2 linked regions of the Homo sapiens genome follow. The protein of the gene in region 2 interacts with the protein of the main gene of each other region in a biochemical or structural test. Each region holds a gene or a part of one and is shown on either strand. Other genes may lie near its edges.

Evidence for each region. Proteins that work in one complex are often made in the same cells at the same time.
Region 1: the proteins of RNF8 (region 2) and MAGED1 form a complex in vitro, tested with the Homo sapiens proteins (one study listed by BioGRID).

What each region holds. Positions count from the first base shown.
Region 1 is NC_000023.11:51,896,617-51,902,878, reverse strand, and holds the end of MAGED1 (melanoma-associated antigen D1), read right to left. Parts: coding exon 5,802-6,262; intron 5,672-5,801; coding exon 5,608-5,671; intron 5,333-5,607; coding exon 5,253-5,332; intron 5,085-5,252; coding exon 4,993-5,084; intron 4,766-4,992; coding exon 4,686-4,765; intron 4,595-4,685; coding exon 4,552-4,594; intron 4,299-4,551; coding exon 4,236-4,298; intron 2,698-4,235; coding exon 2,583-2,697; intron 1,327-2,582; coding exon 949-1,326; 3' UTR 941-948; intron 734-940; 3' UTR 525-733; downstream 1-524. UniProt on the Homo sapiens protein: Involved in the apoptotic response after nerve growth factor (NGF) binding in neuronal cells. Inhibits cell cycle progression, and facilitates NGFR-mediated apoptosis. May act as a regulator of the function of DLX family members.
Region 2 is NC_000006.12:37,350,114-37,356,988, forward strand, and holds the start of RNF8 (E3 ubiquitin-protein ligase RNF8), read left to right. Parts: upstream 1-3,869; 5' UTR 3,870-4,051; coding exon 4,052-4,162; intron 4,163-6,875. UniProt on the Homo sapiens protein: E3 ubiquitin-protein ligase that plays a key role in DNA damage signaling via 2 distinct roles: by mediating the 'Lys-63'-linked ubiquitination of histones H2A and H2AX and promoting the recruitment of DNA repair proteins at double-strand breaks (DSBs) sites, and by catalyzing 'Lys-48'-linked ubiquitination to remove target proteins from DNA damage sites.

The DNA.
Region 1 (6,262 bases), on a different chromosome or scaffold from region 2:
GACTCTGGCATCTAACTCATAGTGTTCTCTACTCCTACTCCTGCTGCCCTCCTGGAGTTCTTTCACTTTCCACATGGGTTGTATAACCAACACCCTAGAATCACAGGCCATGGACCCCTTATCTCCAGAATAGTCACCTTCTGTCCCCTTCAACTACCTACTCTCTGGACCTTATCATCACCTGGAGCTCCACCTCCTCTGTGTTCTTAAGTGCAACTGTCTGAGCACCAATACCCTCTCTCACTATGCGACTTCTCGCAATGTCACTCCAAGACACCTAGCAGCATATCTATCACATGAGAGTCACTTAAGTGATATTTATTGAATAAACTATACTAGTTCTTGGGTCTCGTGTTCATTGATCCTGCCTTTGTATCCCAATCCAGTAGCTAGATCTTCCCACATTTCCACCTGCTGAAAGCTGATCTACCCTTCAAACTACAGCTGAGGTCCTGTCTCTCCCACATAAACATGTTGCTCGCTCCCCAAATATAGGGAAAAAAAGAAGCAGAGAGCACATCTAATTCACTTTGCAATTTCAATGTTTATTTCTGATACCAAAACTTGACAGCACACAAGGGGAAAAAAAGCAGTAGACAAGGAACAGCAAATAAATTTATCTTGCATGCCACTTTCAGTCAACAGGATGTGGCTCTCTAGATAGCTGTGTTTAGAAGGAATCTGAGGCTTCAGCCTCACACAGGGGAAAGACTACTGCGATTGATAGCAATATCTGTGAACATAAGAAAGAAGAAGTAAAAAAATCAATGATATATATCAAATAATAAGGAATATACATACCAAAGAGTGCTGCCCCATACTTTCCTCATCTCCCTACAATGAGTTTCCTAATACTTCTAGCTCATGCACATAAATACAACCCCATGGACCCTATATCCCCCAGAGACCCTAACTGCCCAATCCAAAGTGATGTACCTACCCAACATCTCACTCAACCCAGAAGAAACCAATGGCACCAAAGTTGGCAGCGAAGTTGGCACTGGCTGTACCACCAGGACCAATAATGGGACCGGCAAAGGTCTGAGGGAATCTGGAGCGGGCATTCTGGTGGTATCTGGCCCAGAAGGTAAATGGAATTCTGGACCAGGGATCTCCAAAATCTCCTTCCTCATCCCAGGTCAGCAGCTCAAACTCAATGTCATCCCAGCTCCAGGGCCCAGACACAGCCTCATCTCCAATTCCCATGCGGGTTCTTGCTTCAGCCCGGGCTTCGGCCTCAGCTGCAGCAGCATCCAGAGCATCCAAGGCCTCATCTGCAGCCTCCATGAACTGTGCAGTCCAGTCACGAGGGTCTCTTTTCTGAACCTGAGATGAGGAATAGAAAACAAAACAAAATCCATTTACAATAGCCAAGATATGGAATCAACCTACCTGTCCATCAGTGGATGAATGGATAAGGACAATGTGATACACACACACACAATGGAATACTATTCAGCCTTTAAAAAGAAGGAAATTCTGCCATTTGCAACAACATAGATGATGCTGGATGACATTATGCTAAGTGAAATAAGCCAGACACAGAAAGACAAATACTGCATGACCTCACTTATACATGGAATCTAAAAACGTCTAACTCATAGAAGCAGAGAGTAGAATGGTAGTTTCCAGGGCCTGGGGTCAGGAGGGATAGGGAGATATCGGTTAAAAGGTACAAAGTTTCATTTAGATAGGAAGAATATGTTCTGGAGATCAACCGTATAGCATGACGACTATAGTTAATAATAATGTGTCGTTTATTTAAAATTGCTAAAAGAGTACATTTTAAATGTTCTCATCACAAAAAAAATGTCAAGTATATGAGGCTATGGAGAGTTAACTAGCTTGATGTAATCATTCTGCAATGTACATGTATTATCAAAACATCATACTGTACCCCATAAATATGTATATTTTTTATTAGTCAGTTAAAAATAAATGAATGGGCCGGGTACGGTGGCTCACGCCTGTAATCCCAACACTTTGGGAGGCTGAGGCAGGCAGATCACTTGAGGTCAGGAGTTTGAGACCAGCCTGGCTAACATGGCAAAACCCTGTCTCTAATAGAAAAATAAAAATTTAGCCAGGCATGGTGGTGGCACGTGCCTGTAATCCCAGATACTTGGGAGGCTGAGGCACAAGAATCGCTTTAACCTGGGAGGCAGAGGTTGCAGTGAGCCAAGATTGCGCCACTGCACTCTAGCCTGGGCAACACAGCAAAACTCCATCTCGGGAGAAAACAAATAAATAAATAAATAAAACAAAATACTTAAAAATTACATTGTACACCACAAATATATACAATTTTTGTCAATTATAATTTAGTAAAGTTGGGAAAAAATAAAAATACTTTAAAAACCTAAAAAAAAACCCAAAACAAACTCATAATTGTATTAGCTAATATATTAACATATGTTAGCACCTAATACATGTTAAGTTTACCTAACAGCAACAACAAATACCACCAGCAATGCGGCACCTACCACCTGCCACACCTAGGATCTCATTCCTACCCTGGGCCTTTCCCAGCCAGCTATACTTCATCCCTTGACCTATCAATGCTGGAACAGTTCCTCCATTACCTCTGCAATGAATCTCAGCACTTTCATCTTGCTAGTCTCATGGTAGGAACGGAGGCCCCAGAGGAACTCATACTCCGGGGGGTTGCTGTTGGGCACTCGTCTGTAGTCCAGGTATCTGAAAGAGCAAAACAGTCTTTGTGTCTACCTACCCAGGCAGAATGGTAGTCCACTAATGAAAAATAATCTTACATTTTTTAACAGATTTCAGATAGCAACTCCCCCTTGGGCTCATTCCTGAACACCATCAGGGTATTTACCCCTTAATCATCAAGCCTTAAATTCCTGCACTAGAACGCTAAGCACTCACTAGAGATGCAGGCGAGGCTTGTATAGGGTCACAGAAAGGACAACATTTCCTTTCACTCCTTCTGCCTCAGCTCTAGCTCCAGATTCTTGTAATCTTGTCAGTGAGCCACAGAGGTCCATTGAAATGAGTACAATGCAGTGCAAAAGTGTCAGCCTGGCCCAGCCTTGGGAATGTCTACTGTGGGGATGGTGGATGGGCTTCACTTGCAAGACAACTGCTTAGAAAAGTAGAAAAATTAGAAAAATTCTGGCCGGGTGTGGTGGCTCACACCTGTAATCCCAGCACTTTGGGAGGCAGAGGTGGGTGGATTGCTTCAGGTCAGGAGTTTGAGACCAGCCTGGCCAACGTGGTGAAGCCCCATCTCTACTAAAAATACAAAAACAGCCGGGCACGGTGGCACGCACCTGAAGTTCCAGTTACTCGGGAGGCTGAGGCACAAGAATTGCTTGAACCTGGGAGGTGGAAGTTCAAGCGAGCCAAGATTGCACCACTGCACTCCAGCATGGGCAACAGAGTGAGACTCAGTCTCGAAAAAAACAAACAAAAGAATTCGCCCGGTACGGTCGCTCACGCCTGTAATCTCAGCACTTCTGGAGGCCAAGGCAGGCAGATCACCTGAAGTCGGGAGTTTGAGACCAGCCTAACATGGAGAAACACCGTCTCTACTAAGAAGACAAAATTAGGTGGGCGTGGTGGCACATGCCTGTAATCCCAGCTACTCAAGAGGCTGAGGCAGGAGAATAGCTTGAACCCAGGAGGCAGAGGTTGCGGTGAGCCGAGATCACGCCATTGCACTCCAGCCTGGGCAACAAGAGCGAAACTCCGTCTCAAAAAATAAAAAAATAAAAAATAAAGAATTTAACCATGAGGAGTATATGCAATAAATACTCCTGAGGACATAAGTGTTTCTGTATGCACAGAAACACATATGCACAAGTATAGTGTAAGAAACGAGCTTGAGAAGGGCTTTCTTTTATTTTTTTTGAGACAGGGTCTCACTCTGTTGCCCAGGTTGGAGTGCAGTGGCATGATCACAGCTCACTGCAGCCTCAACTTCCTGGGCTCAGATGATTCTCCCCTACCTCAGCCTCCCAAGTAGCTGGGACTACAGGTGCATGTCACCACGCCTGGCTAATTTTTGTATTTTTTTGTAGAGATGGGGTTTCGTTATGTTGCCCAGGCTGGTCTTGAACTCCTGGGCTCAAGCGATCTGCCCACCTGAGCCTCCCAAAGTACTGGGATTACAGGCATGAGCCATTGTATCCAGCCAGGAAGGGCTTTCTAAAGCTGACCAGCACACAGGCAGAATCATAAGAAGCAGGAAAAGCCCCTTAGGCATCACTTACTTCTGCTTTACAAACTCATAGGTGAGAAGTTTCCTTAGATCTCCAAGGAGGGGATGTCTCACCCTGAAGGTAAAAAAAGGAAACCCACAATCAGAGGCTATTACCATGCCCAAAGAGCTTTCCAGAACAGAGGTCAGAGATGAGAAAAGAGGCAGAGAGTTCAGAACTGTTTCCCCATCCACCCAGGTCACATCTTTGGGCTCTGAACATCCCCAAACCAAACCCTCCAGACCCCCAGGTTAATGCAATCCTGGGACCATCCACTGTTGCCAAAGGATGGCACAAACAGGCAAGAGATGAGAGAGCCCAATCATACCCAGGACGCAGTCCCATCTTGCGTAGTGCCTCCCAGAGGACAGCTGCAATGGGAGGCAAGGGGAGACAAGGGACGGAAAATAAGCATGGAAATCAGGCTGTGGCCAACCCCCAGCTGCAGGTCCAGCCACTCACCCTCACTGGCACGGTTGCCATTCATGAAGATGACACCCAGAATCACCAAGAGGAGACCGAGCTTGGGTGTGTCTTTGGTCCTAAGGGAATATAGAAAGAATATATTTTCAGTAGCCATTTGCATGAGAGACCCCAACCAGCTTGCCCATCTAGCCTCCCCAATATTCCTCAGCTAGGGGAGAATTATACCCCAGCTCTGCCCATGACCTGCTATGTGACCCTGAACCCTGGACCCTGATCTACGTGAAACTCCTAGAAAAAAAGCACCACTGAGAAAGGCCATGTTCCACCTTCTTTCCCATCTTACGTTCCCAGTATGCCAGCCAGGGACTCGGGGGTACTGATGAGAATATACAGGTGTTCTTCTTTGTCAATTTCTTTCAGTTGAATCCCAAATTTCTACAGGGGCAAGAAAACAGACTATGAAATTACAACATCTAGCATAAGCTACCCATAGGCAGACACTCATCTCCCTGAGACTTGCCCTAAACTCCCAGTAGGAACCCCATGAATCTTTGAAATCAAGACTTTCCCCATTATTCCTGTACCCCAGGGCTGCCTTCTCACCTTCTCTAGGACAAAGCATGCACGTTCAATGATTTCTGGATAAACATCAGTGTATTCACGGATGATATCTCTCAGCATTTCTGTAGGAGAGAGGAGGGAGCCATCTGAGCCGAGCGGGGGCCACAGAGCAGCAGTCCCTTTGCCAGCCCTGCTGGGGGTAGCACAGTCAAGGTCCTCAAGGGTGGAAAGAGCCAACCATGGAAAGGAGGGGATAGAAGGGGAAGGGTCATACAAGCAGAAGAATGCCGACAGAGCATGGAGTGAAGGGAAGGGCAGAGCTACAAGCAGAAGAATGCTGACAGAGCATGGAGTGAAGGGAAGGGCAGAGCTTGGGGAGGGGACACTGGATGCATACCTGAGCGCTTGATGGGCACCTTTGTGTAGTCCTTAAGCATCAAGTACTTGACCAACTTATTTGCCTGGGAGGGAAAAAGGAAATCATTAAACTTATAAAATATTTACAAAAAAACTTGGTTGAATTACAGATGAGAGGATGACAAAGAAAAGAGCAAGAGAGGGGAAAAGTGACTGGGGAGTTACAGCTCTTACTCTTTCCTGAAGAAGGGCCACATCTCGGGGCTGTGCAGCACCTGGGTTCTGTGAGGCACGCGAGTTGGGAGAAGGGCGCAGGTTAGGCGAGGGGCGCAGGTTCTGCCAGTCAGGTGGAATTGGCCAATCAGCGGGGATCCAGTCAGGTGGTAGTGGCCAGTCAGTGGGAAGTGGCCAATCAGGTGGCAGTGGCCAGTCGGGTGGTAGCGGCCAGTCAGGAGGACCTTGCCAGTCTGGAGGACCCTGCCAGCCCGGTGGGGTCTGCCATCCAGGTGGAGTCTGCCATCCAGGTGGATTCTGCCAGGCCAGTGGATTCGGCCAGACAACAGGGCCGGGCCAGACAATGGGGTTTGGCCAGATCACTGGGTTCTGCCAGATTACTGGGTTTGGCCAAATCACTGGGTTCTGCCAAGCGACTGGGTTCTGCCAGGCTGGTGGGGTCTGCCTAGCTGGAGGGCTCT
Region 2 (6,875 bases):
GCTGTTGATAAATCAACAGGGGAGGAGAGACAAACTCCTGTGCAGAATTCCATACAGTTTCTGTAGAGAACCTGCAGTTAAGGAAATGGAGCATAATTCCTCACTCCTTAAATTTGGCCCAGGAATAGTGACTTCATTCCAAAGAGTACAGTGTGGAAAACGAGAAAAAAAACGAGTAAGTTTAGGCTGGGCGTGGTGGCTTACGCCTGTAATCCCAGCACTTTGGGAGGCCAAGGTGGGCAGATCACCTGAGGTCAGGAGTTCGAGACCAGCCTGGCCAACATAGTGAAACCCTATCCCTACTAAAAATACAAAAATTAGCCAGGCATAATAGCATGCAGCTGTAGTCCCAGCTACTCAGGAGGCTGAGGCAGGGGAATTGCTTGAACCTGGGAGGTGGAGGTTGCAGTGAGCTGAGATTACACCATTACACTCCAGCCTGGGCCAATGAGTGAGACTCCATCTCAAAAAAAAAAAAAAAAAAAAAAAAGGCCTGGCACAGTGGTTCACGCCTGTAATCCCAGCACTTTGGGAGGCCAAGGTGGGCAGATCATCTGAGGTCAGGAGTTCAAGACCAGCCTGGCCAACATGGTGAAACCCCGTCTCTACTAAAAATACAAAATAAGCCGGGCGTGGTGGCTCATGCCTGTAATCCCAGCTACTCGGGAGGTTGAGGCAGGAGAATCGCTTGAACCCAGGAGGCGGAGGTTGCAGTGTGTCGAGATTGAGCCATTGCACTCCAGCCTGGGCAACAAGAGTGAAACTCTGTCTCAAAAAAAAAAGTAAGTTTACAGTGGAGAAACCTGACAAACACTACCTAGATTTCCAAAGCCTAATTTCCTAACCATGGTTGCAATCCCAACCTGGAACGTTTTATCTGTGTGGTACTGTCATATCAAGAAATAAGAAATGCCAGGTGATCGAGATGAACACCAACAATGATAGTTCATGTTGATAACACGTACCCTGGATATGATGCCATGAGAATGACACTTTACCTATGTGGTCTTCCATCCCCAAATCCATAACCCCAGTCTAATCATGAGAAAAACATCAGACAAATCCCAGTTGAGGGACATTCTACAAAATATCTGTCTGGTACTCCTCAAATTGTCGAGGTCATCAAAAACAAGGAAAGTCTGAGAATCTATCACAGCCAAGAGGAGCCTAAGGAGACACACAGACTAAATGTCAGGGTGGCTTCTAGGTGTGCTTGCTGTTCCTGGGGTAGAATGCTAAGGTGGGGTGGGGGCACCAACAGATACCTATGCACAGCTTAGGGAAGCATCTCCATGAGTGCAGCTATGACTTTCACCAAAGTTCCTGGCCCTCTGTGATGTCAGGGCCTGCATTTCTTGATCTGACTGCACAACACAGATAAAATGTTCCAGGTTGGGATTGCACCCATGGTTAGGAAACTAGGCTTTTGAAACAGACTTGAATTGACATCCTACTCTGCCATTTCATTTGTTACTTTGGGAAGATTACCAAAACCTCTCTGTGCCTCTTTTCTCATCATCTCTAACATAGGGATTATAATTGTAACCACTAATAACTGGCTAATTTTTCTTTTTTCTTTCTGTTTGCAAAGGACAAATAAAGTATGTAGGGTGCTTCGCCTAGTACCTGGCACTTAGCACTCAGTAAATGTTAGCTATTTACTATTGTACACTGTGTAATTCATTTAGTGTATGTATTTTCTTTTCTTGTTGTTTTGTTTGTGTATTTGTTTTTGAGACAGAGTGTTGCTCAGTCACCCAGGCTAGAGTACAGTGGTGTGATCTCAGCTCACTGCAACTTCTGCCTCCCAGGCTCAAGGGATCCTCCCACCTCAGCCTCCCTGGTAGCTGGGATTACAGGTGCTCACCACCATGCCCAGATCATTTTTGTATTTTTACTAGAGACAGGGTTTCACCATGTTGGCCAGGCTGGTCTGGAACCCCTGACCTCAGGTGATCCACCTGCCTCGGCCTCCCAAAGTGCTGGGATTACAGGCGTGAGCCGCCACACTTGGCTGTGTGTGTGTTTTTTGTTTTTGTTTTTGTTTTTTTTGTTGTTGTTGTTTTGATGGAGTTTCACTCTTGTTGTCCAGGCTGGAGTGCAATGGCGAGATCTCGGCTCACCGCCACCTCTGCCTCCTGGGTTCAAGCGAGTCTCCTGGCTCAGCCTCCTGAGTGGCTGGGATTACAGGCACACGCCACCACGCTGGGCTAACTTTGTATTTTTAGTAGAGACGGTGTTTCTCCATGTTGGTCAGGCTGGTCTTGAACTCCCAACCTTAGGTGATCCGCCTGCCTCGGCCTCTCAAAAGTGCTGAGATTACAGGCATGAGCCACCATGCCCAGCCCGGCTGGTTTTTTGACAGAATTTTATTTAGGAAAATTGTTTTCCTTCTTTCCCCTTGTGCAAAAAAAAAAAAAAAAGAGAGGAAGAAGGGAGGAAGGAAGGAAGGAAGGAGAGAAAGAAAGAGAGAGAAAGAAGAAAAGAGAAAGAAAAAAGAAAAGAAAGAAAGAGAAGGAAGGAAGGAAAGAAAGAAGAAAGAAATTGTTAACTGGGTGTTGGAAAACTGAAAAGACAAAAGGGGCTCAACCATTGGATGTACTCACTGCAGGCAGCAGCTATCACACTATATGGAAAATCCAAAGGAGAGGCTGAGTTTAAAAACAATTTTTTAATTGGCCGGGCTCGGGGGCTCATGCTTGTAATCTCAGCACTTTGGGAGGCTGAGGCGGTTGGATCACTTGAATCCAGGAGACACGGCGAAACCCGGTATCTACCAAAAAATATAAAAATTAGCCGGGCGTGGTGGCGCGTGCCTGTAATCCCAGCTACTCTGGAGGCTGAGGCAGGAGAATCTCTTGAACCCGGGAGGCGGAGGTTGCAGTGAGCTGAGATCGCACCACTCCAGGCTGCACTCCAGCCTGGGTGACAGGGCGAGACCCTGTCTGTAATCAGTAATAATAATAATAAAATTAACAGCTTTATTGAGTATAATTTACATGCCATAAAATTCACCCACTGGAAGTTTACACTTTCTTCACTTTACAGGGTCTCACTCTGTCGCCCAGGCTGGGATGCAGTGGCGCCATGTCGGCTCACTGCAACCTCTGCCTCCCGGGGTCAGGTGATCCTCCCACCTCAGCCTCCCAAGTAGCCGGACTACAGGTGTGCACCACCACACCTAGCTAATTTTTCTTTTTTTTCTTTTTTCCTTTCTCTCCCTCCCTTCCTCCTTTTTTTTTTTTTTTTTTTGTAGATACGGTGTCTCCCCATGTGGCCAGGTTGGTCACAACTCCTGAACTCAAGTGATCCGCGCGTCTCGACCTCCCAAAGTGCTGGGATTACAGGCGTGAGCCACTGCGTCCGGCCACACTTCCATGACTTTTTAATAAACTTATACAGTTGTACAATTGTCACCACAATCCACTTTTAGAACATTTCTATTACCGCTTTCCTCCAATTTTTTCAAGCCCATCTGCATTCAATACCCGCTCCCACACCTCGCCCCAGGTAACTGTGCTCTTTGTCTTTGTAGATTTGCCTAGTGTAATTTATTTTTTACTTCGGTAATATAAGTAGGTCGTGCAAAATAGAGACTATTTAGCAACAGACTAGGCAGACTTAAATCCGATGGAAAGTTTAAAGTTGTTTAAAAGTGGGCTATAGTTTCACATGACTTTTTTAAAAAGAGGAAAGGTGAGAAGAGGTTCCAGTCTGGGGCGGCTAGGACTGGGGTGATGGTTCTGGAGGCGGCGAGGGAAGGTGTGAGGCGAGGAGACCTCTCGAATCGCGCCCGCCCCGCCCAGGGCCGGATTGGCTCCCAACCCACCCTCTTTGCTCCAGGGCGGCCGCCGTCCTCTTGCGCAGGCGTAGTGCTCCTGCTTCCTGGCCGAGGGCGGGCGAGCGGAGCCTGCTTTCGCAGCGATCGCGAGCGTGTGGCGATTGCTTCTGTCTGTTATTTAGATATGGAAGCTGAGGGGATGCACAGAGGCAGCCAGAACCTAGGTCAGGGTCTCGCTCGGTGCTGACCGCCCCCGGGGTCGAGTAGGCGATGGGGGAGCCCGGCTTCTTCGTCACAGGAGACCGCGCCGGTGGCCGGAGCTGGTGCCTGCGGCGGGTGGGGATGAGCGCCGGGTGGCTGCTGCTGGAAGATGGGTGCGAGGTACGGGGGAAGGGGTCCTGTGGAGCGGAGGGCAGGGGCTGGAGGGAGCGGGGCTCCGGGGAGGGAGGAAGGTGTCTTGCTGGGCTGAATGAATGGCAGAGAGGAGGCGGGCATCAGGAAGAGGAGCGAAGTGTCTGTGGGGGGGGTGGATTCCTGGGGAGAGAAGGGAGAAAGCGGTTCTGGCGCGAGCGGCTGAAGGGTCTGCGGTGGGAGGTGTTTGGGGGAGAAATAGGGGCCGAGTGGGAGAAAGGAAGAAAAGAGAGTTCGGCTCTGGGGAGCCCGGGGGGGCCACAAGGGTTGGGGCGAGGACGGAGGCCCTGACCCGCGGCCTGTGGGGCGAGAAGCGGGCCCCGTCCAGAGAGGCCTGGGTCAGCGGGTAGCTGGGCCGGGGACTGGGAGGAGAGGGACGCGCAGGGAACGTGAGGAGATGCGGGGGTGTCGAGGAGGGGAGGGCGGGGGCTGGCCAGATCCCGTTTAGGGCGCACAGAGCCCCGCGGTGCCAGGTCGGGGAACGGTGGCGGGGGCCGCGAGCTGCCGGGAAGCCGAGGCAGGGCCCGGCGCCTGAACTTTCTCGAGTTTGTTTTGAAAACGATTGCAAATTTTGGGTTTTGTCCCTTAAAGCAATCAAACTTTCACGTAGAAATGTCTTCCTCCTTCCCAACTCTGAGGAACATGGGCGGCTTGGGCTGGGCCACATTTCTCCTGTGAGGCTCGGTACGGCCGAGTGGCACTCCCTGAGGTGGGTCGGGCAGGTATTCAGAGTTCTCTCCAGAGGCTGCCTGTCGTCTTTATTAATGCAGTTGCAAATGAAAAATATTTTAAGGGGAAAGATGAGGTACCGTTCCTGGCACGGTTCAAGATGCACCAGCGTGGTGCATCTTGAAAAGACGAGGGAAGGGAGGAGGGAGTTAGATTGCAATCAGGTTGAGAAGGAGAACTGGGTCAGGGACAAGCTTGTGATGACTGGGAACCATTTGGGTTTTGGAAATAATCTGTATGAAAAGTTCTCTTTGCAGTAAAAGTGGATGGTTGGTCATGATGTAAATTCAAGAAGTATTTTGAGTCTCATGTGTGTTCAGGTAGATTTTTCCTATAAGCCGTACTGCCTCAATTCAGTCTGCCAGGTATTTACTGAGTATTTAACATTGTTTGGTGTACAATGAGGACAAATAAAATTTCTGCGCTCGAAGAGTTTAAGGCTTGAGTGGGGAGAGAGGATTTATACAATGAAGCAGTCATCGTATAAAGAACATCCATATGGGCTGTATGATCAAGTGCTAAGATTTGGATTATTTAGTTCCTTCCCAGAGCAGTAGTTCTTCAAGTCAGAGGAGGAATTCATGTCTAGGCACAAATTTAATTGCTAGATTAGGGAGTGTTATAAAGGGTTACTTGTATGCTGTGGTTTGAGGAACACCAAGAAAACATCTCTGCCTCCAAATACCTCTTCTATCCAGGTATTAGTGCCTAAAAGTCCACATTAAGCATTCATTCTTTTAGCTTGAGCACTGATCTTTCCCTGCCTGGCCCTTTCCAACAGCATATGTTTGTGGGAAGTTTAACAAATTAAAACACGAACACCTGAATAATAACCTGAATAATACACACAAAAATAAATTATTTTTGTGCATAACTATTAGTTAATTTCACATACATTACTTAATCTGATCCCTGCATACACACAACCTCATAAGATAACTCAGTGGGCAAGTGTTATTCCTTTAGATTCAATTGTTGTGGATTAATTTATGACTTCTGAATAGCTTGTCAGTACTGCAGTCTTGGGCAGGTGGGATGGGGAGGACGAATTAAAGCACCTGAAGAAAGGGCAAGAAGACTATAAAGCAGTCTTAGACATATTCTAAACCATTTGATAGTTCTTTATGGGGCCAGTTGCATGGGGAGGGACCCATATAAACTCAGTGGTAAGACTGTGGCTGGCTTCAGGGACCTGTGTGTAGGAGAAGCCTGCCAGGCTTGGCTGCCTGCAAGGTCAGGTCGTAGCATAGCCTGAAAAGAAGTCTGAATCAAAGGCAAGAGAAGAAGTTGTACTTATTGTTATGGTCCCCAAATCATAGCACAAGCTGTTTTGCACAAGATTTTAAAAGATACGCTAATAACATAACAGCAAAGGTAGGTCAGTTCCCTGCCTTTCCAGTTCTTAGTCTCAGATGTTGTGGATAAAATAATAAAACAGGGTTCCTTTCATTTCATTGATGGGAACACTGTAGTAAATTGTCTAATTAAGTGGCTTTAAGCTTGTTAAAGCAATGCATAGAGTTTGGTGGAAAAACAAGTAGAGATTTATTGCAAATTAGCTAGTTCTCAGGTACTATAAAGTATCTAGGCCTTTGGGGAAAACAACAGAACCTTCTCTCCCCTTTTCTTCTCTTGTATTTAGTTTTCATTAAGTTTTCTGCCCCAAGGGAAAAAAGGGAAAGGATGGTTATATTTACTGGTTTGGGGGCTTTTTTGTGGGGTGTTTTGTTTTGAGACAGAGTACTCCTTCTGTCACCCAGGCTGGAGTGCAGTGGTGTGATCACACCTTCACCTCCCTGGTTCAAGTGGTTCTTCTGTCTCAGCCTCCGAAGTAGCTGGGATTACAGATATGCACCACTATGCCCAGTTACTTTTTGTGTTTTCAATAGAGGTGGGGTTTCGCCATGTTGGCCAGGCTGGTCTCGAACTCCTGGCCTCATGTGATCCGCCCGCC